Homo sapiens: one gene and its partners. The protein of the gene in region 5 purifies or fractionates together with the protein of the main gene of each other region. This does not show direct contact. Each region holds a gene or a part of one and is shown on either strand. Other genes may lie near its edges. The genes, in order: FSD2, GOLPH3, RMND1, CMTM6, CHSY3, LRP5 and RCN2.

Region 1 (3,968 bases), on a different chromosome or scaffold from region 5:
TAAATCTCTGCTCTTGTTGCTTCATTCTTTACTTGCTTTTTTTTTTTTTTTTTTTTGAGAAGGAGTCTCACTCTGTTGCCCAGGCTAGAGTGTAGTGGCGCCATCTCCGCCCCGCGGGTTCAAGCAATTCTTCTGCCTCAGCCTCCCGAGTAGCTGGGATTACAGGCACCCGCAACAGGCCCGGCTAATTTTTATATTTTTAGTAGAGATGGGGTTTCAGCATGTTGACCAAGCTGGTCTCAAACTCCTGACCTCAGGTGATCTGCCTGCCTCGGCTTCCCAAAGTGCTGTGATTACAGGCATGAGCCACCGTGCCTGGCCTCTTTCCTTGCTTTGTTTGTGCATTTTGTCCAATTCTTTGTTCAGAACGCCAAGAACTTGGACACCCTCCACTAGTAATTCCTGTCCCACCCTCATGACCTCTGGCTGCTCCAGCTCTGGCAGCCTAGGACCCAGGGACCATGCCCTCCCAGGGGACCGCGCCCTCTCCTGACCTCACCGTCCCAGGGGGCTCTTCTGCCTGCACCTGCCTGACCCCTCTTGCCCACACTCCTCTGGGTCCCCTCCCCATTAGGCTCCTCCCTCCTCACTCATTTGTAGGATTCCTTTTCCCTCGAGGCTGCCTCCGTGCCATATTCGGATTTGACCTGAATAACAGTGCACCTTCGGGAAGTTCACAGAACGCCCTTGTGAGCGGTTGACAAAGTACCTGGTGAAGTGAGTGTCGCTGGGTGACAGCTCCCTGGCGGGGGTTCTCCTTTCACTTCGTACAGCCGTAAGTCCGTCTTCAGAAATGGTCAGCCAGGGATGGCAAGTGTCCTTGTTTAGGCGAAAGTAGCTTCCTGTGGGAGGAGGAACACACAGAAGACCCGCAGCCAATCACTTGCTTTCTCCATGTGGGCGGTGGTCACCGGTTTAGCTTCGTGTGGGATACACCTAAGCCTGGACCTGGCCTAGTAATAGGCGTCCAGTTAACAAGGATGGCAATTGACACTCATCGGGCAGTCTTGTGTGCCTAGTATCCCCTTCAATCCTCACGACGACCCTTAGAAACAGGTGTCACTATTTCCATTTTGTAGATGAGGAAACAGAGGCACAAGGTGGTTAAGAAATCAGCTGGCAAATGATAGAACTTAAACTTGAACCCCAAGCCCCTCTGATTCCAGAGGCTGTGCTCTTTACCTCTAGCTGTAATGCCTGTGTATGGATAAGAATTTCTAACCTATTTGCCAAGGGAAATAGGAATTGAAGGACTTCTTAATGATCCATTTGACTTGCAATTAGGGCAGTATGGGACACCCCTGAACTCCTTCTGGCCTGACTTGCCACGTGTCCACATCTGTGCATATTCATCAATTTCCCAGTGAAGTCATAGCAGCACTGGGTCTGCCACAGAGTGGCCACTTTGGGTCCCAGAGACTTTGTGGGCTGGGGCACAGACCTATGGTGTGGACTGTAGCTGGCTCGCTCCTCACGCTGGGGCCCCCCATATTGAGGGCTCGCACATAGATAATGTAGCTCCGCCCCGGCTGCAGCTGCACCACGGACTCGCAGGTCGGGATGCCCACAACAGACCTGTACAAGGAAGCAGAGCTGCAGTCAGAATGGGGCTAGGACACCCAGGCCCAAGCACCAGGCATCCCTTTCAAAGCTGGAAGGTTTAACTCACTCTTGCGCTCCTGTCCTCTGACCCACATTTAACAGCAGCATAGCCAGGAGTGCTGGCTCCCCCTCTGCATTCCCTCCCACAGTCTCTGGTCTGCTTTTCTCACTTCATTGCTACTTCTTGTGTTTGTGGCTGTCTCCTCTCCAAGTCCCTCATTCTGGTTTCCCAGGCACCCAGCACTGTGCTTGGCATATGGTTAACACTGCATCATGGAGTGTGCATGCAGTAGAATCCAGTGTGTCTCTGTCCGTCTGTTAGGATCATAATGTCTCTGAGGTCAGGGGCTGAGTACCGCTATTCTTAGTACAGTACTGGGCCCATAGAAGGCCGTCAATTCAGCCAGGTGCAATGGCTCATGCCTGTAATTCCAGCACTTTGGGAGGCTGAGGCGGGTGGGTCACTTGAGGTCAGGAGTTCGAGATCAGCCTAGCCAACATGGTGAAACCCCGTCTCTACTAAAAATGCAAAAATTAACCGAGTGTGGTGGCAGGTGCCTGTAATTCCAGCTACTCAGGAGGCTGAGGCAGGAGAATTGCTTGAACCTGGGAGTTGGAGGTTGCAGTGAACCGAGATCATCACGCCACTGCACTCCTGGGCGACAGAGTGAGACTGTCTCAAAAAAAAAAAAAAAAAGGTCCTTGATTTATGTTTATGAGCAAACAATTCTGACTAGAGCTGAAAGTGTTAACTGCTGTTAACCCCCTAACAGCTGCCTATTGGAAATAATCCAATGTATTTAAATTGTACTATACAGAAATATAAGCTCATAATTGCCACTGTCTATATTGCTGCGGTTGCCAACCCCATGTCAGTCCAGTGGGCAAGAGAAGTCTTTAGGATGATGCCCATTTACCAATACAACACCCTCACCCAGATGAGGCCAAGTTGTCCAGGTTATCTTCAGGCTGCAGCTCTGGGCCAGAGGGGCACTTTTACTTATGCATTCAATAAATGTTAACTAAACTCCTTAGGTTCCAGGCACTGTATAGGGAGGCCCTCAGAAAAAACAAATGTAGTTCCTGCCCTCATAGAGCTTACAGTCTAGATGGGAAGAGCAGCATTCTTCAGGCAATCACTGGAAGGAATGTAAGATGGTAACCAAGACAAGTTGATAGTGTGCTGTAGTGTATAATGGTGGGGGCAGGATGGCTTTTGAGCAGAGCTCTGAAGAATGCTGAGGAGGTAACTGGATGAAAAAGGGACAGAGGAGTCTCCTACATAGGAGAAGCATGTGCCAAGGCCCTGTGGCAGGAAGGAGCATGAAAAGTAGGAGGAACTGAAACATGACCAATGTGGTGGGATCTTGAGAGGGAGGGGAGCTGGTGTGGGAGGAGCTGGAGAGGCAGGAAGGGGCCAGAGCCTGTGAAGGAGTTTTGCCTTTTCTTCAGCAATGGGTCGCCATGATTGGATTTGTACTGGAAGAATATGCACCAGCTCTCAGGTCATCTCTCAGGTTACTGACCAGCCCTCTGATGACCTCATCATTGTGAGTTGGTCCCAGGTGTCAAGTGCTCCTAAAGTATCAGCATAAATTGCAAAGGAAACCTGAACCATTAGGATGGCCAGAACCACTGGACACACTGCCCCACTCCTGAGTATCTCCAGAGTGGATTACCAAAGTCAGCCTCTGTGTGGCCATGGACACACAGATTCCACCTGGAACAGATGGATGGGTGGCATATGGCCACGTTTCAAGCCTGGCATTTAGCATAGAAGAATCTGCTTCCCTAACAATTGACACCAACACCTCTTCATTTCTCCAGCTCCAGGTCAGTGCACCCCTGTGTTCCACAGCAGGGGAGCCCCTGGTCCTGGTGGCTGGTGCTGGCCTGCCTGGGTGGTTCATCCCCTTTCACAAACTTCTGTAAACCAGAGGTAAACCTATGCTTCCTCCATCATAGGCTGCTGTAAACTCATAGGTTCTGCGAGCCCTTGTGGTCACTGAGTCCAACCCTTATCAATTTGTGAACCCCTCTAGCTCTCTGAGAATGAGGGGTGAACATGAGCTTCCAGACAGTCTTCTGTGATAGATGAAACATTCTTTGTACATTCAGCTGCAATCTCTTTTGTTTTCGCCTATGGCTTTCACCCTCACCTCTCTGAATTCTAGCTAGGTGGGTCTTTTAGTTCCTCCAGCAGCTCACTCCTGCCCCAGGGCCTGTGTTCATGCAGCCCCCTCCCCCCGAAGCACCCCTGCATTCGCTGTTCTTGGGGCTCAGTCTTTCCCATATGTTCAGGTCTCAGTTTAAACATCTTCTTTATCCAAAGTGGATCCTCACCTCCACCACCATTCTCTGTTTTA
Region 2 (3,968 bases), about 98 Mb from region 5:
AATAGAGACAGGGGTTCACCATGTTGGCCAGGCTTGTCTTGAACTCCTGACCTCAGGTGATCCATCCACCTCGGCTTCCCAAAGTACTGGGATTACAGGTGTGAGCCACCGCACCCAGCCTTCAAAATACAATTCTAAAACGTAATTCAAATGCTCCATACAAGAACTCTCAGGTAGTCCAAAATTAACAAATATCAAATATTAGTATAACTTATGAGATGAGTTAGTGAATATTTTGACCATATTGTAAAAGAATCCCAAAGCACTAAAAAGTAATTTCAACAGTATAAAATCTTGTTGAAAAGGTATAATAAGCAGACCAGGCGTGGTGGCTCACACCTGTAATCCCAGAACTTTGGGAGGCCAAGGCGGGAAGATTGCTTGAGGCCAGGAGTTCGAGACTAGGCAACATAGTGAGACCACGTCTCTACAAAAAAAAATTTTTTTTTTTAATTAGCTGGGCATGATAGGGTGCGCCTATAGTCCCAGCTATTCAGGAGACTGAGGAGGGAGGATTGCTTGAGTTCAGGAGGTCGAGGTTGCAATGAGCCATGATCACACCACCACACTCCAGTCTGGAAGACAAAGCTAGGCCCTGTCTCAAAAGAAAAAAAGTACAATCAAATAGTTTAATGAACTTCAAAAGTAATTTCTGAGATCCTGTATATCTCATACCTGTGTTTAAACACCTGAAAAAAATAGATAAAAATTCAAAACTTCAAAAAATATGAAGGAAATATCATTTGTCTTAGAAACAACGAAAATTCATTAAAAACTCAGAAGCCTTTATTATATTTTAAATTACTAAAACTCAGCACATCTGGAAATTCTGAATACTTGTTGACTGAATTTCTGATTTACAGATTTGATATGTAGAGATGGTGGACATCACCACACGTATAGAAAGGAAAACAATTTTTGTTAAGTTATACATCTTCATCACTATTATACTTCAAAGTAGTGACCTTGGGAACCTTATTCCAAAAATGGAAAACATCTTTGGAGCCTGTGTAAAAGCCACACAAAAGTCAGTTCTATCATTTTGGTTAATCTTAAGTATTTTACCCCATTACATATTATTTACCTCAAGTACCTACTTATTTTTCAAGACATAGAGTTAAGTTACTGTATTACAGTTCTTGTCTACAAGCATTAGAAACATTAGTAACTGACTCTGGCTATCTTTAAAAAGCAACTTTACTGGAAGGCTGTTGAAACTCACAACACTGAAAGATGACTGGAAAATCAGACTGGAAAAAAACAGTGCCAACAGACCAGAGAAAGCAGCTCAAAGAACCATGCCAAAGAACAGTCTGATCCACACGCTGACATGACTCTGGAAAGGTCTCCAAAAAACCCTACAGCTCGTTATTCTCTCAAGATCCAAAGCCCTGAAAGAAAACATATGATTGGACAAGTCTGGCTGCATGACAAAACAGCAGGGGAATAATATGCTTCAAGAGTGCATCCTAGAGCCGGTCGCAGTAATCCCAACACTTTGGGAGGCTGAGGCGGGAGGATCACTTGAGGCCAGGAGTTCGAGGCTGCAGTGAGCTATGATCTCGCCACTGTACTCTAGCCTGGCGACACAGCACAATCTGTCTTAAAACAAAAACCAAAAAACACAACAACAAAAAAAAAAACAGGTGCGGTGGCTCATGCCTCTAATACCTGCACTTTGGGAGACTGAAGCGGGAGGATCACTTGATCCCAGGAGTTCAAGACCAGCCTGAGCCATGTGGTGAAATCCCTGTCTTTATAAAAAAAAAATTTTTTTTTAATTAGCTGGGCATGGTGGTGTGTGCCTGTGGTCCTAGCTCCTCGGGAAGCTGAGGCAGGAGGATCACTTTAGCCCAAGAGGTTGAGGCTGCAGTGAGCCAAGATCGCACCACTGCACTCCAGCCTGGGTGACAAAGAAAGACCCTGTCTCAAAAACAGGCAACACACTATGGGGAAACCCTAAAGTAATACAAAATAAAGCGAAGACCTGGGGAGGAGTTAATAAACATCCACAGCAGTACAATCAGAACCATCATATGGAATGACTACTTTTCCATTATACATGAAAACACTGAAGCTCAGAAGGCTTAAATTATATGTAAAAGCCAAAGAATACACTTTGGACAGGACTATAGAGCCTCTCTCTGCTTCTGCTGTTCCATAGGCATACTCCAAATTATACTTGGCCACTGAAAATAATTAAATCTAACCTTAAAAGACTAAGATTTGCCACCAATGAAGACATTCAAACATATATGACACCAGTTATTTGTGGTAATTCTCAATAAAGCATCCTGAAAATATTCTATGGAAAGCATCTATAGAATAAACACACACAGGGAAAGGAAAATACCTGGCACTTTTGCTGTCCCTCCCCCTCAAACACTGGGTCAATTAAAGAAATACTGCTAATTACTTGGCAGTTGAATTTAGGTGTAAACTATCTGCCATCCTTACTGTGGTCTTTAAAGAGTTACTTAAATACTTATGCACTGATTCTCTGCCCAAGTGAGCATGAAAATCTTCTGAGGGGACTAGCCATCCCTGTTTTATAAAAGCAAAAAACAAATATCATTGGTTAAAAAAAAAAAATCTGAAATGTGTAAAGAAAAAAAAAAAAATCAATCACAATGACTTTAGACTCACTCCTAACAGGTAATCTGAAGCCAGACCATCTGCTTATTCAAAAACTGAACCTTCTGTTCAGCAAAAAAGAGAGGGAGACTTGACTCAGAATATGTCAAAGTAATTTTTTAAATATTATAGATTATAAACATGTTAAAAATAAATTGGTAAGACAATAAGAACAAAGGACAATCTCACACGATATGGATGAATCTCACATTGAACAAAAAGCAGACACAAAGTACAAAAAACTAGGCAAAATTAATCTATGCTGAATTCTAATATTAAGCCAGTGGTTACCCCTGAGGAATGGGTAGTGACTGGAAAGATACTCAAGTGGAGGGCTAGGGCTTCTGTTTCTTGCTCTAGGTACTGGTTTAACAAGTATATTCACATAAGGTTATTAGCTCACATATATAAAATATTTCCAACATTAATGATTTGCTTAAATGTAAAGTTTAGCTTTTAAAGTTCTTAGGAGAATCCAGACATTAAAAAGATAAATGCTGAAGTAAAAATCAGTTAAAGCAATGAGTTAGCATAAACGCCTGGGCTCAGGGTAAGACAGCAATTCCTGCCTCCTAAAAAGAGTACTATAGGTTAAAAACATGGTGGCGAGCCTCCCAAGGGAAAAACATACCAACAGATAAGTTGACAGGGCTGGTTATTAGAGTGTAAAGACATGATGAGTTGGCTTGATGGCATGCACCTTGTATTCCCAGCTACTCAGGGCGGATCACTTGAGCCCAGGAGTTTGAGTGCAGCCTGGGCAACATCTTGAGACCTCCATCTCTTAAAAAAAAAAATTTTAAAGATGTGATGAAAGGAAAAAATATATAGGCTAATCCCTAAAACCAAAACCTAAAGCAATACAAAATCCCAGTAGTCTCAACCCCACCCCTCAACTCTCTGGACTTGCCTAAAAAAAAAGAGAAAAAATTTCCCCATGTGGTTGCTGAAATCAGGAAGAAATGCTCACAATAAGCTAGCAAGCATCTGGACCTTAGCCATGACTAGCAAAGTATAATGAGTGACTCTTGATGCAAAATAAACAGAACACATGGTTTCAATTACCCGCCAAATAACTTTAAATTGTTTAAATTATGTGAGTATGGTTAAACTTCAACAAATTATTTAGATTATCTTCTTAAGACCCAATCACCGAAAAACAGCATGTTAATATGCTTCACCTTAAACATTTAGAGCAAGGGTGTCCAACCTTTTGGCTTCCCTGGGCCACACTGGAAGAACTGTCTTGGGCCATATATAAAATACACTAACACTAGCAATAGCTGATGAGCTTTAAAAAAAAAAAATTGCAAAAAAAATTTCATAATGTTTTA
Region 3 (3,968 bases), on a different chromosome or scaffold from region 5:
GGAGACTGAGCAAGACTCTGTCTCCAAAAAAAAAAAAAAGGTCAGTGTTTAAGAGTAAAAAATTAGGAAATAAACCAAATGTTCAGTAGGGGTTGGCTCAGTAATAGTCACTCCACACAAGAAAAACTTAAAAGTGTGTTTTGGAAGGATAGTTAATAAAAAGGAGAACGTTCACAGTAAATTTCTATGTGAAAAAATGCTGCATATAAAACTATATATGGAGTGTAATCTAAAATCACACTGACATGATGGGGTTGGGGAGGGAGGCAAGGAAGTTGTGAAAAATGAGTATGTGACTGTGGAGAATCCTAGACAGGGGACAGGGGAAGAGCGGAATGTGTGAATATAAACATCACAAGCAAATGGAAAAAAGACAGGGTAAACCTTCACAAAAGATGTCAGACAAGAAGTGACGGCCAAAGGGAGGGGGACAAGGGGCCTGATGGAGGGCGGCATCTGCTATGACAGCCTCAGATGGAGGAAGGAAAGCAAAGACAGCAGTCACAAGAGGTCTTTTTTTTTGAGACGGAGTCTTGCTCTGTCACCCAGACTGGAGTGTAGTGGCGTGATCTTCGCTCACTGCAACCTCCGCCTCCTGGGTTCCAGCGATTCTCCTGCCTCAGCCTCCTGAGTAGCTGGGATTACAGGAGTGCACCACCACATCCAGCTAATTTTTATATTTGTAGTACAGACAGGGCTTCACCATGTTGGCCAGGCTGGTCTTGAACTCCTGACCTCAAGTGATCTGCCCGCCTTGGCCTCTCAAAGTGTTGGGATTACAGGCATGAGCCACTGTGCTTGGTCACAAGATGCTTTATGAGTAAACTGGGCCCATGCCACAGAGCTGAGCAGATCCCTGGAATCATGGCAGAACTCACATAATAACCATGTAGGTGGCAGCCAGGACAGTCTTTCTGACGAAACAAAATAACTGACTCTGGGATCCTAAGCACTGAGGATTTTACTCCTCACAGACTGTACAGTAACGTGTGTGTGTGTGTGTGGATAAGCGTACACACACACACACACAAGGGTCTAGCAGTAGTTGGATATGGAAGTATTTGGTTGGTGCAAAAGTAATCGCGGTTTTTGCCATTTTAATGTAAACCTAATAGAACACAGAAAGGGGATTCACAGGAGCTGTATCTGCAGGCCAAGGGCTGAGTAACTACTAAAGATAATAAAACTACAGGCTGCTCATTTGCTGTCTCTCTCAGGTTTATATCCTTACCTCTGACTGCAGCCACCACTGGGCTCAGGCTGACTCACAGTCAGGTGCCCTTTGGCAAGACAGGATTCAATAAATCTCATCGGAAAGCCAGTTAGCTGCAATTATAGGGTTTTCCCCAGGATTAAATGAAATAATACATGGAAGGCACTTACTTAGAAAACCGTGACTGGCCCTATTGGTGGTGAGCGCTGATTACTCAGCTCTTATCCCCATCTGGTCTTTCTATAGCTAGTCTCTGTCTCTCTTCCAAGTCTTCCCAAAGCTCTGCTTTTAACGCTTTTTTTTTTTTTTTGAGACAGAGTCTCACTCTGTTGCACAGGCTGGAGTGCAGTGGTGCGATCTCAGGTCATGGCAACCTCTGCCTCCCAGGTTCAAGCAATTCTCTGCCTCCGCCTCCGCCTCCCAAGTAGCTGGGATCACAGACACTCGCCACTATGCCCGGGTAATTTTTGTATTTTTAGTAGAGATGGGGTTTCGCCATGTTGGCCAAGCTGTCTTGAACTCCTGACTCAGTTGATCCTCCCACCCTGGCCTCCCAAAGTGCTGAGATTACAGGTGTGAGCCACCAAATCTGGCTAACACTACCTTTCTTAAGAACCTGCAAAGACTCATATTTCACTAGACAGGTAACTCCATGAGGAAAAAGACACTACCATCTTGTTCATACTGCCTCTGTCTCGGCCCTAACATCTCTTCATTTTTTCCCTCTGGCTGAGTCAGGAAAATCAGCTAGTCTGTTGCCTACCCATTTATCTTAGTGAAACTGGTACACCAGGTCCCACTTCTTCCAGCACCCACACTTCTACAAGTGGGTCTCTTAGATTGACCCCTCACTATACTTCCTTTTCATACCCCCACCCCCCAAAATCAATAGGAAAAAACTGGATTAAGAGAAAAATTTACTGGAATAATTTGATAGGTTCATTTGATAAATGCATACTATTTTATTGGATTAGGCTGATTAGAAACTTAACATTTCCATTTTGGGGCTATACTACTGACTTGTTTTAACTTGTGGATAGCCTGAGAAGTTCAAAAAATTATGTTTATCTTCTAATATTTATTATATGGTTTAGACTTTGTATTTGTACCAGTAATCTTTTTCCTCTTTTTTTTTGAGACGGAGTTTCACTCTTGTCACCCTGGCTGGAGTGCAATGGCGTGATCTCGGCTCACTGCAACCTCCGCCTCCCAGGTTCAAGCAATTCTCCTGTCTCAGCCTCCCGAGTAGCTGGGATTACAAGCACCCGCCACCATAACCAGCTAATTTTTGTATTTTTTAGTAGAGATGGGGTTTCACCATGTTGGCCAGGCTGGTCCTGAACTCCTGACCTCAGGTAATCCACCTGCCTCAGCCTCCCAAAGTGCTGGGATTACAGGTGTGAGCTACCACGCCTGGCCACTTTTTTCTTAAAAGTAAGTTTCCAGGCCAGGTCCAGTGGCTCACGCCTGTAATCCCAGCACTTTGAGAGGCTGAGGTGGGCGGATCACCAGGTCGAGATCCAGACCATCCTGGCCAACATGGTGAAACCCTGTCTCTACTAAAAATACAAAAAATTAGCTGGGCGTGGTGGTGCACACCTGTAGTCCCACTTACTCAGGAGGCTGAGGCAGGAGAATTGCTTGAACCCGGGAGGCAGAGGTTGCAGTGAGCCGAGATTGTGCCACTGCACTCCATCCTGGGCGACAGAGTGAGACTCCGTCTCAAAAAAAAAAAAAAAGTTTCCATATGCATAATAATTTGTCTCCTCTATTGCTTTACCTAATTTATTCCAAGTGCCCCTTTCATAAATTTGATGAAAAGTTGCTTACTCTATTTTTATGTAGTTAAGTTCTTCATTTTCCCAGTGTACCAGTGCGATTTCATAGGGCTGAATTTCATGTTTTTCTAGAACTTTCATCACATGCTTCATCTAGAAGAAAAGGAAGATTAATCTGAAATCATAACTGACTCCCTCAGTTCAAGTATGTTATGATTTTAATGCTTATAACAGTCTTCATTACACTTACAGGCATTATTTCTGTTGCATGTTTTTAAGGAAAAGGCAAATCAAATCCATTGTGATATTAAAGTAATCAGGATGACATGTTCATTTGTTTTTACATTTGGAAAACACAGATGAGAATGGAGAAGAAAATCAAGGTTATCATTATCCCACAACCCAAGGAAAATCACTAGTAATATTATAATTTGTATTCTTTAAATCTCTTTAATAATCCCAGCATTTTGGGAGGCAGAGGCGGGTGGATCCTTGAGCTCAAAAGTTCAAGACCAGCCTGGGCAACGTGGCAAAATCCTGTCTCTACAAAAAAATACAAAAATTATCTGGGTGTGGTGATGTACACCTGTAGTCCCAGCTACCTGAGAGGCTGGCTTGAGCCTGGGAGGTGGCGGTTGCAGTGAGCCAATGTCAGCCGGTGTGACAGAGCAAGACCCTATCTCAAAAAAATAAATAAATAAAAAATAAAAAGTAAAGCCCAACATACTAATAAAAAATTAAGCCACACAGGTGTGGGAGGTGATCATCTCTTTCTCTCTTCTGTACTGAAATCCTAATCCCCAGAGGCAACCATGATTAAACTTGGTGCATATCCTTCCAGACTTTTTATGTGTATATATGTACATATTTATGCTGCTTTTTATGTAAAATAGGATCATATTATGCACATGACATTTTCAACACTATTTTCCTTTACAGACGAACTGCAATTTATTTAACCAACCTAGGTGTGTCCT
Region 4 (3,968 bases), on a different chromosome or scaffold from region 5:
CTGAAGCATGAGAATTGCTTGAACCCAGGAGGCAGAGGTTCCAGTGAGCCAAGATGGCGCTACTACACTCCAGCCTGGGTGACAAAGCGAGACTATCTCAAAAAAAAAAAAAAAAAAAGTGTGGACATTTACTAGCTCCCATCTCAAGTTAAAGGCCAACAAATTGGCACTACAAGCTATAGTCAATATGAAATTCTGTCGGCCAGATGCGATGGCTCACATCTGTAATCCCAGCACTTTAGGAAGCCAAGGCGGGAGGATTGCTTGGACTCAGGAGTTTGAGACCAGCCTGGGCAACATGGTGAAACCCCATCTCTACCAAAAAAAAAAGAAAAAAAATTCTCTGCCTACCCATCTCTGAGGCTACTAACCTTTGTAAGCTCCCACAGCATTATGCAATTGCTAGCTCAAAGTGTACTTGAACTAGCAACACTCCAACACTGTTCTACGTATAGGAAGATACAAATGATGGAGTAATAAGCTCAATGTACAAGAAACAATAATAACAATATATTTTATACCACATTAACTGAGCATTCATTATATGTAGGTTAGAAAATCTCAAGAAAATGTTCGAAGGAGCCGGAGAAGGATGAGTGGAAAAGCAGGACTCAAACCAGGCAGAGACACAAACAGAACCTGGATAGACAGAGGACATTCTAATTCTAGGTGGAGGATGAAAAAGAACATATTCATAAGGGCAAGAATTTGCATAGTAAATCCAAAAATGATAATAAGGCAACTGACCTAACTGGATGGGGATGAAGAAAAAAATGGTTTAGGAGTTGGGTGTGGTTGTGTGATGATCATGCAAGGGAATATGGATGTTTAGATGAAGGCAGGAGGGAACACCTGTCTGGTTTAGTAGGTTAGAAAACAGGAGGAACAGAGGATTGGGTGGGGCCTAAAGGAATTCTACAGTTCCGAGTGTAGGAGGGAAAAGAGCAACTAACTTCTTATCAGCAAGCCACAGGAAGTGTTTTTAAAAAAAGAAAACTCCTACACCGGGCGCGGTGGCTCACGCCTGTAATCCCAGCACTCTGGGAGGCCGAGGTGGGCGGATCACGAGGTCAGGAGATCAAGACCATCCTGGCTAACATGGTGAAACCCCGTCTCTACTAAAAATACAAAAAAAATTAGCCGGGCGTGGTGGCGGGCGCCTGTAGTCCCAGCTACTCGGGAGGCTGAGGCAGGAGAATGGCGTAAACCCAGGAGGCAGAGCTTTCAGTGAGCCGAGATCGCACCACTGCACTCCAGCCTGGGCAACAGCGAGACTCTGTCTCAAAAAAAAAAAAAAAAAAGAAAGAAAAAACTCCTTAAAAAGCAGCAAGTAAACATACTCCAAACTGTTACTCATACCGTGACACCTGGTAGTGTGAGGGGTGGGAAAGTGGTTTTATTTTAATATTTTTAGTTGATTTTTTTTTTTTTGGTAAGCAGACACTTTCTTGTATTAAAAAGAAAAAAGTGTAAAAGTTGGCCGGGCGCGGTGGCTCACGCCTGTAATCCCAGCACTTTGGGAGGCCAAGGCGGGTGGATCACGAGGTCAGGAATTTGAGACCAGCCTGGCCAACATAATGAAACCCCGTCTCTATCAAAAATACAAAAATTAGCCGGGCATGGTGGTGCACGCCTGTAGTCCCAGCTACTCAGGAGGCTGAGGCAGGAGAATTGCTTGAACCTGGGAGGCAGAGGTTGCAATGAGCCGAGACTGCACCACTGCACTCCAGCTTGGGTGACAGAGCGAGGCTTCGTCTCAAAAAAAAAAAAAAAAAGTGTAAAAGCTGAAGGAACAATTTCGAGAAATGAGTGGTCACCAGCATTAAATGCCAAAGTGGTCAAAAATAGGAAGAGAGAAAAAATGTCACTGAATTAGCTAAGAAATTCATGGTAAACATAACCCATAAGTAAAAAGGCTCAATTATTATTTTTTGGTAAACAGTTTTGTTCTTAATAGCATGAAGTCATCATACTAAATATTGCTTACTGAATATTAAGCTAAGTACTTAACAACTGTATACCCAATGTAACTCCTTCTAATGACATAAAATTTTACCCAAATATAATTAAGAGAATTATCAAGCTTTTAATGTCAGGAGGGCCCTTAGCGGATATAGTCTCCCACTCCCACGTTTACAAAGATGGAATTAAGCTACTGACAGGTTAAGCCCCAAGTTAGCTCGGCACAGACAAGAACCCAAGTCTCTGACTCCCACTCTGTACTTCCTCTCTCCCCATGAAATACTGTTTGTTAAATTCCTTTTACGAGTATGTATGTTTGTGTAGGTCTTCCCTGTAAGACTGGCTTTTTGAAGTTAAACCCACAGTTCTGTATATTTCCTTTAATGTATTAAATCATACATTAAAAACAATTTGCTAACATCAACAGATTTGGGAAGTCTCAGTGACTAAAACATGATCTTACAGTTCTGGTGATTTAAACACTGGATAATTACTATCCTGCCTCTATCTCTCCATTTCAGTTTCACTACCCCTTCTTTTTTTTTTTTTTTTTTCTGAGATGGAGTCTCGCTCTGTTGCCAGGCTGGAGTGCAGTGGCACGATCTTGGCTCACTGCAATCTCCACCTCCTGCCTCAGCCTCCTGAGTAGCTGGGATTACAGGTGCACGCCACAATACCCAGCTAATTTTTGTATTTTTAGTAGAGACGGGGTTTCACCATGTTGGCCAGGATGGTCTCTATCTCCTGACCTTGTGATCCGCTCACCTCGGCCTCCCAAAGTGCTGGGATTACAGGCATGAGCCACCGCACCCGGCCTCAGTTTCACTACCTTTTCTGAAATTTCAAGTGTTCCTTAAAACGGTCACTATATTAAATACGAATTCTCCATTAATTTAACAGTCTACTACTTATATTTTATAAAAAGAACTTTTAAATGTTTGCCATTAATTATAAAGCTCCATCTACAAAATGATATGAATTATAAATTAATGAACTTTACTATTAAAAACTTTGTAGTTATAAGTAAAGTTCAAATTTAAAAATCCATTGGTCTGAAGAAACAGGCCAGGCCTCCCTTGCCTTAGGCAAATATTTACTCTTACAAAGGTTCAGATATAATTTGCTGACATTACGGGATCTTCCTCAAGGTAAAAATAGAACATTTCAATTTACTATACATCAGTTTTCATATTTAAATAATGAAAAGAGCATCAATATAAGAAATGCTTCCAAGTAATCTGTTTCTTGGTACTTATAGGGTAACATTATTTATAATGTAATATATTGAAAAATCACTGGCGATTTCTAAAACTGCTTGCCAGATGAGCGACTAGAATTCCAGTACTGTGCAGCTATCAGGATAGTCAACTGACAGCATGGATACAATGTGGAGCTTGTTGCACAGAAAATTCCACATATTTAGGTCACTGCACCAGCGTATCAGCAAGCAATTAGGTTACCAAACGTCAATTCTCCCCTTAAAACAAAAACTCCCTCAAAAACATTCACAAAATAAAACATGAACATGTGGACAAATCTAAGGATAGTATAAACTGAAAAACTGCATAAAGTTAGGACTCCAGTAACTCCTTACACTAAATTCTCAACTGAGTATTTCTTCTTAAGCTCTGGAAGGGTGGATGGTAGTTGGGGGATGCTTAGGGTTTTAACAAAACTTAGGTCATATCTAAATGGCAGACACAGCTATGTTAACTTCAAGAGATAGAGAAGTTACGTTCTTTTATCTCTAATCTCCTCTGTGTACAGGCTCCACTCTCTATCCCTTCAATATTCAATTCAGTTCTGTAATAGCAAACCCCATGGAGCCTCAGAGGTTTGAAAAAAAAAAAAAAACCTTAAGAGTGCAAAGAACCTCAGAGGTAATTCAATTCAACCTCCGAAGACTCTAATGTAAGAATTTCCTAAGTATATACACAATGTCTGGTTTTTAAGTTTTAGAGCAGGCTTTTCTCTTGTAGGATCTTTGAGATTCTGTTAAGATTTAT
Region 5 (4,423 bases):
TGCCATTCAATACCATCCCTTTGCGTTTGATGTCTAAAACAGAAGACTGAAATTTGAAGAGAAGGAAGTACTTGGGATGCCAAATGCACCCCAGACTATAGCTTTATGCACAACCTTTAGAGAGAAATTTGTTAATGCTCCCTTCTTCAAAAATCATATACCTTCAGGTAATTTCTTCCTAACGTAACTAAGGCACAATGATTTTGGCCAATACAGCTTAACTTTTTTTGAGATTCTGTTGCTGGACAATTTTCCTCCCTCATTGGAGAGGTAAAATTTTCCTGTCTTTGCCTTAGAAAATAAAACGGTTCATAGGCAAGAATAAAAATCATATCCTCCATTTTATTTTTTGATTAAGTTCACTTATTTTGTGGGGGTAAGAATTTCTTTCGTTTGGATCTTCAGGGTATTGGCCCTGTGAATGTGTGCCCATTTCTCCACTATTTGCCAGTCCCACTGAGCCAATCTTCTACCAAGACTGAAAATAGACCATAGTTCTCATTTCTTGAACAGATATCATCAGGAGAGCCGAGGGGGAGACCATTAGGCAGCCCCACATTTTCCAACTCAACAGGTGGAGGACATGGGATTTTTACGTTCTTTGGGGATTGAACCCCCACACACCACCAACTCCCTTAGCCTTTCAGGATAAGTATTTCCAATCCCTCAGAGATTTTCTTAGGAGAGACCCTAACGACAATGGTGCTTCTGTGAAGGACTGAGGAGAGCTGGTGGACGATGCAGGTAGGAGGGAAGTTAGGCTGGGAGGAGAGGTGCTGGGATGGGACGTTTGGTTTCCTGACAAGTGACCGACTAGAGAGAGAAGGCGCGGAGTGGCAGCGGTAAGAACAACGTGGAAAGGACGGAAAACGCGAAGAGTGGCGCCCTGGCGGACCTGGGGCGGGGCAGAGTGGTAAGGGTCACGCCAGGACGTACCCGGCTGTGGGCCGGGGGAGGAGAGCACGGTGGGACAGCAACGAACTTGCTGGGGGCTCCCGGACCCGAGCTCCGCCGATGAGGTCAGCGGAGCCTAGGCGCCGGGAGGAGGCCAGTAGAGCCCCCAGACACGAGTGTCGGGAGGCCAGCGGAGGGGCGGGACGGGACGGGAAATGGGACGAAGAGCAAGAGCTGGGGGAGGAGGGAAGAGGGGGCGTCGGCGCTGCAAGCCGGAGGCGGCCCGACAGGGATCGTTTCCTTCCGGAGAGGAGGCCGGCTCTGGACTGAGGCGCGGACGGGGGGCGTCCAAGGGCGGGTGACGGGGAAATACCGCGGCCCGCGCTTCTCTCCGGCTGGCAGCGGTGCCGCCTGCGGCTCCTCCTCCGGGCCAGCTCGGAGCCCGGCGGCGGGGGGAGCGGGAGGCGGGAGTGAGGGCGGGGGCTCGGGAAGGAGGGAGGAGGGAGGGCCCAGGCGCGCCACTGACAGGGTGGCAGCCTAGGAGCGGACGCGTTGCCGCCGCCGCTGCTCCTCCTCCTCCTCCTGCAGCTCCTCCAGCTGCCGCTGCTGCCGCCGCTGCCGCCACCGCCGCCGCCGGGAGAAGTTTCACTCCCGACCCTTGCTCGGAGCCCCGGCCCAGAGCTGAGCGGGAGCCCGGCAGGCAGCTGCAGCCCGCGGCAGTCGAGGCGTCCGCGGCGCTTCGACCTCCAGCCGGTGTCGGCGCCTAGGCGGCCGGCTGCGGCCGCGGCTGGGGGCGCAAAGGCGGAGGAGGGGCGGGTGTGAGCCGGGGAAACCGCGTGCCGCGCCGCGACAGCCCAGCGAGCGTCCGCGCCCGGGACAGCCGCGATGGCTGTGCGCTCTCGCCGCCCGTGGATGAGCGTGGCATTAGGGCTGGTGCTGGGCTTCACCGCCGCGTCCTGGCTCATCGCCCCCAGGGTGGCGGAGCTGAGCGAGAGGAAGAGACGTGGCTCCAGCCTCTGCTCCTACTACGGTCGCTCTGCTGCTGGCCCCCGCGCCGGCGCTCAGCAGCCGCTCCCCCAGCCCCAGTCCCGACCACGGCAGGAGCAGTCGCCGCCCCCCGCGCGCCAGGATCTCCAGGGGCCACCGCTGCCCGAGGCAGCACCCGGGATCACCAGTTTTCGAAGCAGCCCCTGGCAGCAGCCACCTCCGCTGCAGCAGCGGCGGCGAGGACGCGAGCCTGAGGGCGCGACGGGGCTTCCCGGTGCTCCAGCGGCCGAGGGGGAGCCCGAGGAGGAGGACGGGGGCGCGGCTGGGCAGCGGAGAGACGGCCGGCCGGGGAGTAGCCACAACGGCAGCGGGGACGGGGGCGCTGCCGCCCCGAGCGCCCGACCCCGGGACTTCCTGTACGTGGGGGTGATGACCGCGCAGAAGTACCTGGGCAGCCGCGCGCTGGCCGCGCAGCGGACCTGGGCGCGTTTCATCCCGGGCCGCGTGGAGTTCTTTTCCAGCCAGCAGCCCCCCAACGCCGGCCAGCCCCCGCCACCCCTGCCTGTCATCGCGCTACCGGGTGTGGACGACTCCTATCCTCCCCAGAAAAAGTCCTTCATGATGATCAAGTACATGCACGACCACTACCTGGACAAGTATGAGTGGTTCATGCGCGCCGACGACGATGTCTACATCAAAGGTGACCTCCCTGCGCCGGCTTTCCAGCCTGCCAGTCTCCCCGACTCCTTTCTCTGTAACCGGTCCTAGCCCCTGCCCAGCCCCTCCGCTGCTTCTCTGCCAGCACGTGCTTCGGGCTCCCACAGGCCCTGGCCCGCCCTCCCCACCCCTTGCATCCGCCCACAATTCGTAGCCCGTTCCTCGTCTTCTGCAATCTGGACCCTCCTCACACCTGCCTGGCTTTATTCGCCTTCCTCACTTGCTGTTTTCGGTGCCGCCTCGCGCTTGTCCCTTAGTCTTTACCTCGTCGGAGAGGTTAGAAAAGGAACCTTAGAGCTAAACCAAAGGCCATTCCCACTCTGCCCTCCTCTGAAAGCCCCTGCTGATGGTAGTTTCCCCAATCGGTCCAGAGGGGCGTGGTCTTCAGGAAGGGAAGACGGAGGATGCTAGCTACAACTAGTCTGGAGATCCAGTGTTCTGGCTTTGGATCTTGCTCTTTTGTTTAAACTGGATCTAGCGCACTTTTGGAACTGCTCAGATTGAGGAATCGTCTTCGCTGTCCCGGACCCTTTCCTATGTGTTCCCTTCCCTTTGGCTCAACTCTCCACATACTGGGAGTCCTTGGCCATCCCCACCGTGCCAGCGCGCTGCTCCTTCCAGCCGCTACAGTTCAGCACCAAGCCGTCCCCCATCCCCCCGCCACACCTCAATAAAACCCTGAGAGGATGGGCATGTTGTAAGGAATTGGTGGTGGGGGAAAAGAGGAAAGCACCCGCTAATAAGCCAGACCCCTGGGAACAGCAGACTGTACTAGCACACACTAGTATTGGTTCCTTTCCAGTGCATTTTGTTGGCCGCGGTGATAAGCAGAGGCTGGAAGTCCTTCCCAGAACCACAGGCAGCCACAGCAAGAAAAAACTTTTTTTGTCAGTTTAAAAGAGGCGCGGTCTTTTTCCCGGAATGTGGGCGGCTCTGGACAGAGAATTTCTAAACTCAGCGGATCAAAGTTCTTTAGGTCAGAGAAGTGAATCTTTCCAGTCCAGCCAGTTGCTGAGATGGGGAGCAACGCAAGGGAAGCAGCAGGGTTGTACCGAATGAGGTTTCTCTGTGTTTTCCACATTTCCTTGCTTCCCGGTCAAAGGGGGGCAGCCCTTCCTTATTTTATGCCTTTCTACTCGTAGCCTCATTGCTTCCTCCTGATTCGGATAGTACTTTTCACATAATGCAAGAAAAACGAACAAAAAGCCAAACAATAAACCCAAACTGTTGCATTTTGGCACAAGGAATTAGTGTAATCATAATAACTAGAGATTTCTTGGCTTTGGATTGGAAGGAGGGAAGTCACTCTAGAGCAGGTTGGAATAGAAAATACTGATAATTGGATATAAAAATAAAGAATGGTCTCATTACATTTTTAACAGTGGTATTTAGGATTGACTCAAAGAAGAAAGCTTCCTCTACTTTAAGTTCCTTGCCTTGGATATCTCAAAATTACAAAGGTTTCCTGGCAGAAGTTTGCCACATTTTGCAGGGAATTTATAAAATGCATTAACAGCACCTACTTCTTTCATTTGTTTTAATACTTTGAAAGATTGTCCTTCAGAACATTAAAATGACATATTATTTCAATTTCTATTAAGAATGAAATGTGTTTTGAATTAAGAATCCAATAATAGCTGAAACTCATTGAGATACACGGGGCAAGGCATGGGATCAAGATAATGACTGCAGATGCTGTGCTCATCAAAAATGGTAGTAAAGATGCTGACTGGGAATATGAAGAAGGTGACTCTCTACTTATTCCAATGTATCACTTGGAATACCAAGTGCTTCTCAACTGTTTTAGCTGCAAAATTTTATTTTT
Region 6 (3,968 bases), on a different chromosome or scaffold from region 5:
CGCGTTATTCTATCCAGTTAACCAAATGTGTCCAACACCCGGACAATGAGAAGAAGAGGAGGCAGCTTGGAGGGAGAGCTGACCACACCCAGGTGGAAGAAATGACAGAAGACGCTCTGTTCCCTGCCCCACCCAGAAAAATTTCACAGTGTCCTTACTCAGTCTCAAGGATTCAGTGTTCGGTTTTTTTGGGATAGGGTCTCTTTGTCACTACCACCCCTGGCCCTTTTTTTTTTTTGAGACGGAGTCTCACTCTATTGCCTAGGCTGGAGTGCAGTGGCGTAATTTTGGCTCACTGCAACTTCCGCCTCCCAGGTTCAAGTAATTCTCCCACCTCAGCCTCCCCAGTAGCTGGGAATACAGGCGCCTGCCACCACACCCAGCTAATTTTTGTATTTTTAGTAGAGACGGGATTTCACTATGTTGGGCAGGCTGGTCTCGAACTCCCAACCTCAAGTGATCAGCCCACCTTGGTCTCCCAAAGTGCTGGGATTATAGGCATGAGCCACCAAGCCCAGCCTGGTCCCTTTTTGTTTGTATTTTTTGTAGGGATGGGTTCTCACCATGTTGCCCAGGCTGGTCTCAAGTAATCCTCAGATGGTTACCATGGAGGGGAGGAAGGACTGTGGTCCCAGCTGTGGAGGCCCCTCCCCCAAGCCCTGGGACACAGCAAGGCAGTGGCAGGCAGAATCCTAAATGACCCCGTAATTTCCCACCCCAGTCCCCAGCACGGCGTCATGACCTTATGTGGCAGAAGGGATTCTGCAGATGTGATTAAGGTTATTAATCAGCCGACTTGGAGTCTATCAAAGGGGAGGCTAACCTAATCTAAAGGTGGCTGAGCCGAATCACAGGGCCCTTTAGAAGCAAATCAGAGAGACTCAAGGTGTGGGAGGGACTGACGCAGGGAGCCCCCACTGCTGAGGCAGAGAGGGCCACGGGGCAAGGACCTGTGGTGGCCTCTAGGAGCTGAGAGTGGTCCCCGACCAATAACCAGAGAGAAAACAGAACCTCGATCCCACAACTGCTACCTGCTGAGTGAGCAAGGAAGCTAATTTCTCCACAGAGCCTCCGCTGAGGGCCCAGCGTTCCTGACACCTTGATTCTGGCCCCGTGAGACCCTGAGCAGAGAACCCAGGTGAGCCACGCTGTGCCTGGACTTTGCCTTACAGAACTGAGAGACAATCCGTGGGTGTTGTCAGGCCAGTGGCTCACACCTATAATCCTAGCACTTTGGGAGGCCACAGCAGGCAGATAGCTTGTGCCCAGGAGTTGCAGACCAGCCTGGGCAACATGGGGAAACCCCGTCTCTACAAAAAAAAATTAGCCAGGTGTGGTGGTGCCCACCTGTAGTCCCAGCTACCTGGGAGGCTGAGGCAAGGTGTTCACTTAATTAAGCCCAGAGGTCGAGGCTGCAGTGAACTGTGTTTGCACCAGGGCACCCCAGCCTGGGCAACAGAGCAAGATCCTGACTCAAAAAAAAAAAAAAAAAAAGAGTTGGTGTTGTCTTAAAACGCTGTTCGTGGTGATTTGTTCTGCGGCAAAAGAAAACAACCTCAGAGGCCTCGGGACATTCGGACATGTCGCTGAACCCCAGCGGGCAACAGTTGGCATCTGGCAGAGACCACCGCCTGGCTGAGGCCACACAGGATCTTGCACTGGCCTCCAGCCTCCTCCAGGGGTCGGGTTTAGAGGCCACCCTGCCCACCCCACTGCCAGCCCCCACGTACAGAACTCCTCCAGGCTGACTTCCTCCACTGCATGGATGCCAGTGAGGTGGGCGACACGGCCCTGGATGCGAGTCCGCTTGTCCCCGGTGGTCTTCTCCACACGCTCGATCATCTGCTGCTGGCGGTCGATCCAGTAGAGATGCTTGCCAAGGATGGTCAGGCCCAGAGGCTGCACGATGTTGGCGTCCTCCAGGGTCAGGCGGTTGGCCCCTGCAAGCAGCCCGTGGGCCCCCCTGAGCAGTGCTGACCTCCAGAACTTGCCCCACACTCAGCTTGGGAGGACAGAGGTTGACAGGACTGCCAGGGAGCCTGGGGGATTCCATGCTTTGGACAGGGGTGGGAGCTGCAGCAGAGTCCCTGGAAGCAGGCCGACCCAAGACAAGCCCTCGGAAAGCCCTGCTCCCACCTGGGCTGGGCTCGGGATGAAGGCCATCAGTTCCAACGGCGGGCCTCGGTCACTGGCCCCTGCAAGCATGGCCCCTCCCTTCACCCATCTACCTCATCATAAGAGGAAAAGCCATGGGGACCTGCGCCCCCTCTCTAAGCACCAACTCTCATTTCTCTCCAGCCCTCGCAGCCTAACACAGTCCAGAGCAGAGCAGCTTCTTGCGCAGGTGCTGGGGGCAGAGGCTAGGCTGCAGTCCTGCTCCATCTCCTGCTGTGGGGCCCCAAGCAGCTCGCTCACCCTCTCTGAGACTCATTTTCTGCCTCTGCCCTGTGGGGCTCACTCAGAACCCCAGCCTACAGCTGTCAGTGTGAGGACAAAACACGCTACACACAAAGCCCCTGGCGCGGCACTGGGCTCACGGCAGGTCTCGGACAATGTGGCAGCTGCTGCCATTACTGACAATGAAGGCCGGGTGTCTGCGGTTAGGGCAGGCCCCGGGGCGCGTACCTGACAGGTCACAGCTCTCAATGCGCTTCAGGTCCGCGTCCACCCAGAACAGCTTGCCCAGTGTGTTGTCCACCACCAGGGCCACAGGGCGGATGAGGCCGGTGGTGAAGAGGACCTCGCGCTCGGTGCCGTCCAGGGCTGCGCGTTCGATCTTGGCTGCCCGGTCCTGCATGTTGGTGAAGTACAGGTACCTGCGGGAGGGTGGCGGGTGAAGGACGGGTGTGGGGATGGCGTCTCCTCGGACAGCACGGAGCCCAGGGCACCCAGCTGGGCTGTGGAAAGCCCCTGCCTCTCAGGGCTGCCCGAGGCTGACAGGTCACATTCTATACTAGTTGAACAATGCTCTCCAAATTCCCGCTCACCCCAGAACCTCAGAATGTGAGCTTATTTGGAAGCAGGGTCTTTACAAATGTCATGAAGGATCAAGATACGACCACAATGGGTGAGGGTAGGCCCTAAATCCAACTGAAGTGTCCTTCAATGGTACAGAAGAGGCCACGCCATGTGCAGCCAGACAGAGAGACTGGAGTGACAGGACCACAAGTCAAGGGGTGCCTGGAGCCACCAGAAGCCCAAAGGTTCCCTCAGAGCCTTCAGAGGGCGCAGGGCCCTGCCCACACCTCGATCTCGGGCTTCAGCCCTCAGGAACTGTGAGAGAACAAGTGTCCATTACTCTCAGCCACCTGGCTTCTGGTAATTTCTGACAGCAGCCATGGGAAACAGGTGCAGGCCCCCCACAGCTGCTAAGGACCCCGGAGCCCTGGCTGTTGGGAGACCAGCTCGGCTGGCTCCTGCACAGCCGCCTTATAGACCCGGGGCTTCCGCCCACCGAGCCCCCCGTGTGCTGCAGAGGCCGCACCACTGTGGCCGTCACTCCTACCAATGAGGAAACTGAGTCTCCAAGAGGCTATGCCACCCGCCCAAGGTCACGTGGCCAGTAAGTGACAGAGTCAGGGCTCAATCTCTGGGCTCCCGGCCCAGGACCTGTGCTGGCTGTAGCTCCCGTCTTCATGCCAGCCCCCCAGCTATCTGAGGAAGGCCATCGCGCTCCTGTCCCCAAACGTTCCCGTGCTCAGTTTGGAGCCTGAGTTTCATGTCACATGGGTTTCGGTCTCCCTCTTTCCCTGGCTTTTCTCTCTGGAGACCTCAAGGTCCTGGGTGCCTTCCCACCAACCAGAAGCTCTGACGACCAACAGGTGGGAGCGTCGGGGGCCTCTGGGAGGAAGAAGCCCAGGAGCTCCCTGTGGTGGAACAGGAGCGAGTCAACAGGCAGCCCCCATGCCGTGGAAGGGATTTCTGCACAGGGTTCAAGTTTAACAAGGATGATACAAAACCTATCAACT
Region 7 (3,968 bases), on a different chromosome or scaffold from region 5:
GGATATATCAAGGCAATGAAAAATTATTATAACCTGTTTTGAGTCCCTGTAGGTAAATACAAACTATTATTCTATTCACTGTACTCTCAAATTAATACATGACACAATCTTAACTTCCTCGTCTCCCTGACAATCTAAACAGTTCGTAAATTCAAAACATAGTAATGCATCAATCCCAAATAACTCCATTACTTCTTTCTTTGGCTTAAGATTTTGAACTTCTTTTCCTATCAACAGCACCAAATTCGGGGGGAGGGGGTGGAGAGAAACAGTTGTTCTGTAACACTTACCTCCTCTTGTGCAATGCCCTGATTATTAGGTACTACCCAAGGTAACAGCTCTTGGGGATCAAGCCTGCCATCGTTATCTTTGTCATAATCATTCACGAATCTGTCTTTCTCAACAAGTATCCATTCTGGATCTTCATTTGCAGCTTAATATAAAAAAACACAAATATACATACACAAGAATATCACATGTATCCAATAAGAAGTTTGGTATATCCCTAGAATAAAGGAAGTGAATTTAAAGTTTACTAAAGAAAGCCCAATAAAACAGAACTACTTAACTGAAAAGTCCTGACATAAGAACAAATATATAGTCATTTTCAAAAGTGACACGAGTCTAAACAACCCAGTTTTAAAATCATTGGATGTTTTCACAAACTAGTAATTTTGTTAACTGCTATTTGTTCCGATATCTAGTTTTCCCAGATGTGAGGTGGGTAATGTTTTACTGTATATCATGTTTCTATACAAAGTTTCTTACATGTTTTCACAAAGTAATGCCATGTGTAATTTTAAAGTGACAATCAGAATAAGTAAAACTGGTGACCAATTTAAAAATGGCATTGTTTGGTGTCTTTAAGCAACAATTCTGAAAAAACAGCTGCTTATATAAAAGCAAACTCTTAATTTCAAACACTTATTCACCTTCTACTAAGCTTCTGATACTGTGTTTACACCAGTATTTGTAGTGTTTTATGTTTCTATCTCTTTTAAGATCCACCTGCAACAGCACAGGATTTTGTTTAAAAATATCTACCTTACTTCCTTCCCCATTTAAACTGATAATAAAATTAGATTTGTTTGAAAAGAAAGAAAAATGTTTGACTCTAGACACGGAAGTAAAAGTAAGCAAGACAGCGTTCTCAGATAAGCTATAAATCCATTTGTTGAACTTGTATTACAGTTAACGAAACAAGTAGGATCAGACACAGATCCTCATTACATTTCCTGTTGAAGAGAGCTTTCAATGAGCAAGGCTGTCTTTCAATGTCTTTCTTCAATTCCTTTTCTCTTTTCACATTCTCCCAGGTGACTTACTTGGATCCCACCTGTAATCACCAAGAAATTCTTCCAAACTAACAAATCCATCACCATTTTTGTCATGTTCTTCTAAAGCTTCTTGAATGACAAATTCCTATTCCACGTTCATTAAAAAAGAAAAAAAAAAGTTACAAAATGTTCAGTCCCACTGCCATCCGATTCAATTCTACTACAGAACTTCTTTAGAAATAAATGATAATTTTTGGAGCTCTAGTGGTGCAATCAGCTAGTAAGGTACTTATACAGGAAAAATCACTTTGGTTGTCCATATCTTCAAGACAATCCTTCTAAACACTGGAATTTAGAAGCAAGAATAAAACCTGAAGTACTATGTAGCTTTAAATTCAACATCCTTAAGCTTCTGATATTGTGAAGAACTCCACTTTCACTCTCATAAACAACCTCAGCGTTACTCTCATGCTATTTTCCGCACATCTCTCCCTCTCAAGAAAAGCATCTTATACTACCTTTGTCTTTAACTTCATTTGCCCTCCAATCCATGAACAACCCTAAAAGAGCCCTTACCTTAGAACTGCTGTTCTGCCTCCAGATCTAAAATGTACCAGCCCGCCATTATACCTCAATCTCCTTGCTTCCCCTTCAGCAAACCTAGCCCTATCCATCCCAAACTGCCCCCAAATCTGTTCCTCCCTCTTATCAAAGCTTCTTATCAAACAACCAATCCTTTTCCCTAAAGATGACCTGTTCAATGGCCAGCTGTTTCAGTACTTTCCTCAATATCTTCCTATCTCCTTTTTTTTTTCAGATGGGGTCTTGCTCTGTAGCCCAGGCTAGAGTACAATGGTATGATCTCAGCACACTACAACCTCTGCTTCCCGGGTTCAAGCAAATCTCCTGCCTCAGCCTCCAAAGCAGCTGGGACTACAGGCGTATGCCACCACACCCAGCTAACTTTTATATTTTTAGTAGAGACAGTGTTTTGCCATGTTGGCAAGGCTGATCTCAAACTCCTAACCTCGGATGATCTGCCAGCCTCAGCCTCCCAAAGTGCTGGGATTACAGGCGTAAGCCACTCCGCCTAGCCCTCCCCCTTCTTTTTTTTTTTAACATAGGATCTCATTCTGTCACCCAGGCTAGAGAGCAGTGGCACAATAATAGTGGCATCATAGGCTCCAACTACTGGACTCAAGTGATCCTCTCACCTCAGTCTCCCAAGTAGCTAGGACCACAGGTGCATGCCACCACACCTGGCTAACTTTTTTGTAGAGACAAGGTCTGCTATGTTGTCCAGGCTGGTCTTGAACTCCTAGCCTCAAGCTGTCCTCCTGCCTTGGCCTCCCAAAGTGCTGGGATTACAGGTGTGAGCCACCATGCCTGGCCCATCTCTGACTCTTGCCTTCCCTTAACACTTATTTAGTAAGTCAACATTCCTGCATATGCTTTCTTCAAAATGTTGCTCAAATCTATTTCATTCAATTGCCAGATAGAACTCTGGGCCGTATCACATTATGCCTAAATTATTTCATTGCTTTTACTGGTAATTCCCCTCTTTAGTCTTCAATTGTTCCTTATTCTCCAGAGAATCAAGATCTAGCATCCTTTGCCTGTCATTCTTGGGCTCAATTAGCTTTTCCCAACTTAATTTTGGTACTTAAATTACACCCAGCACTGTTCTTAAACTGGGTCATGTATTCTGTGCCAATGAGAAATTAGAAGCTTCACAATGGCAAGAGAAGTGGTATTAATGACAGTGTCTTACCACTGAGCTATGGAGAAAAATGTATCTGCAGCCTTGTTATGCAAGGCAGCAGGGTCTACCATGACACATTAAACAAAAAGATATATCTTCCTTCTTTGAAATATCCAGGGAACCAAGCCACGTAGCTGGAGGCTGATGTCATGCAACAGACTTCAATATAAATGTTTAGTCTCTTTTTTAAAAAGCTATTTGTTACATTAGTCTTTATTTCCCAGTGTGATGGTTTATGCTTTCAAGCTTGGCCAAGTCATAATAGGGACTCAATTTATGTTTGTTGAGTTAAACTTACAATTCAACAAAAGTTTTGAAAAACTGGTACTTATTTTAAATATTAAAGGGATGAGAGGACTCATTATACTTAAAATTGCAAAAACATTACTAGTTAACTAGCAGCTGCACCCCTACCAACCCTATGAAGAATCCAAACATGATGTTTTTCCAGACCAAAAGCTTTCATAAGTGATGTTGTAAATTAAACAGAAATCCTAATATTACTAACATTGAAAAACCAAAAAAAATCTGAAAGCTACAAAAGGATAAGGAAGGCACTGAAGGTAACACAGTTATGAGAGAAAATAGCCTGAGGAAGCCTGCTGTTCATACATAGTACAGAGATTTAAAAATTCAGTCTTTCACCTTCTCCCTCCCAATAAGCAACTTCGTCACCACAAGAAAGCCTCCTTACCAAGCCTAATTTTAAGTGGGGAGAATGAGCATCATTTTAAATCTGTGTATCTCTTAAAATTCTGGTTATACAATTCATTTTAACAACTTAATGAACAGGTTTTAAAGTTTTGGTTACTTGGAAATGTAAATTCATACAACCACTATGGAGAACAGTTTGGAGGTTCCTCAAAAAACTAAAAATAGAGCTACCATATGATCCAGCAATCCCACTGCTGGGTATATACCCAAAAGAA

Evidence for each region.
Region 1: the proteins of CHSY3 (region 5) and FSD2 purify together in Homo sapiens (co-immunoprecipitation; one large-scale study listed by IntAct). This does not show direct contact.
Region 2: the proteins of CHSY3 (region 5) and GOLPH3 purify together in Homo sapiens (affinity purification with mass spectrometry; 2 studies listed by BioGRID and IntAct, with this or other methods). This does not show direct contact.
Region 3: the proteins of CHSY3 (region 5) and RMND1 purify together in Homo sapiens (affinity purification with mass spectrometry; 2 studies listed by BioGRID and IntAct, with this or other methods). This does not show direct contact.
Region 4: the proteins of CHSY3 (region 5) and CMTM6 purify together in Homo sapiens (affinity purification with mass spectrometry; one large-scale study listed by BioGRID and IntAct). This does not show direct contact.
Region 6: the proteins of CHSY3 (region 5) and LRP5 purify together in Homo sapiens (affinity purification with mass spectrometry; one large-scale study listed by BioGRID and IntAct). This does not show direct contact.
Region 7: the proteins of CHSY3 (region 5) and RCN2 purify together in Homo sapiens (affinity purification with mass spectrometry; one large-scale study listed by BioGRID and IntAct). This does not show direct contact.

The regions. Positions count from the first base shown.
Region 1 is NC_000015.10:82,764,457-82,768,424, forward strand, and holds part of FSD2 (fibronectin type III and SPRY domain-containing protein 2), read right to left. Parts: intron 1,576-3,968; coding exon 1,442-1,575; intron 843-1,441; coding exon 710-842; intron 1-709.
Region 2 is NC_000005.10:32,167,352-32,171,319, forward strand, and holds part of GOLPH3 (Golgi phosphoprotein 3), read right to left. Parts: intron 1-3,968. UniProt on the Homo sapiens protein: Phosphatidylinositol-4-phosphate-binding protein that links Golgi membranes to the cytoskeleton and may participate in the tensile force required for vesicle budding from the Golgi.
Region 3 is NC_000006.12:151,424,439-151,428,406, forward strand, and holds part of RMND1 (required for meiotic nuclear division protein 1 homolog), read right to left. Parts: intron 3,145-3,968; coding exon 3,044-3,144; intron 1-3,043. UniProt on the Homo sapiens protein: Required for mitochondrial translation, possibly by coordinating the assembly or maintenance of the mitochondrial ribosome.
Region 4 is NC_000003.12:32,496,100-32,500,067, forward strand, and holds part of CMTM6 (CKLF-like MARVEL transmembrane domain-containing protein 6), read right to left. Parts: intron 1-3,968. UniProt on the Homo sapiens protein: Master regulator of recycling and plasma membrane expression of PD-L1/CD274, an immune inhibitory ligand critical for immune tolerance to self and antitumor immunity.
Region 5 is NC_000005.10:129,903,051-129,907,473, forward strand, and holds the start of CHSY3 (chondroitin sulfate synthase 3), read left to right. Parts: upstream 1-1,414; 5' UTR 1,415-1,779; coding exon 1,780-2,581; intron 2,582-2,791; exon of another isoform or gene 2,792-2,877; intron 2,878-4,423. UniProt on the Homo sapiens protein: Has both beta-1,3-glucuronic acid and beta-1,4-N-acetylgalactosamine transferase activity. Transfers glucuronic acid (GlcUA) from UDP-GlcUA and N-acetylgalactosamine (GalNAc) from UDP-GalNAc to the non-reducing end of the elongating chondroitin polymer.
Region 6 is NC_000011.10:68,423,950-68,427,917, reverse strand, and holds part of LRP5 (low-density lipoprotein receptor-related protein 5 isoform 1 precursor), read right to left. Parts: intron 2,817-3,968; coding exon 2,626-2,816; intron 1,941-2,625; coding exon 1,731-1,940; intron 1-1,730. UniProt on the Homo sapiens protein: Acts as a coreceptor with members of the frizzled family of seven-transmembrane spanning receptors to transduce signal by Wnt proteins.
Region 7 is NC_000015.10:76,944,875-76,948,842, reverse strand, and holds part of RCN2 (reticulocalbin-2 isoform a precursor), read right to left. Parts: intron 1,423-3,968; coding exon 1,326-1,422; intron 434-1,325; coding exon 291-433; intron 1-290.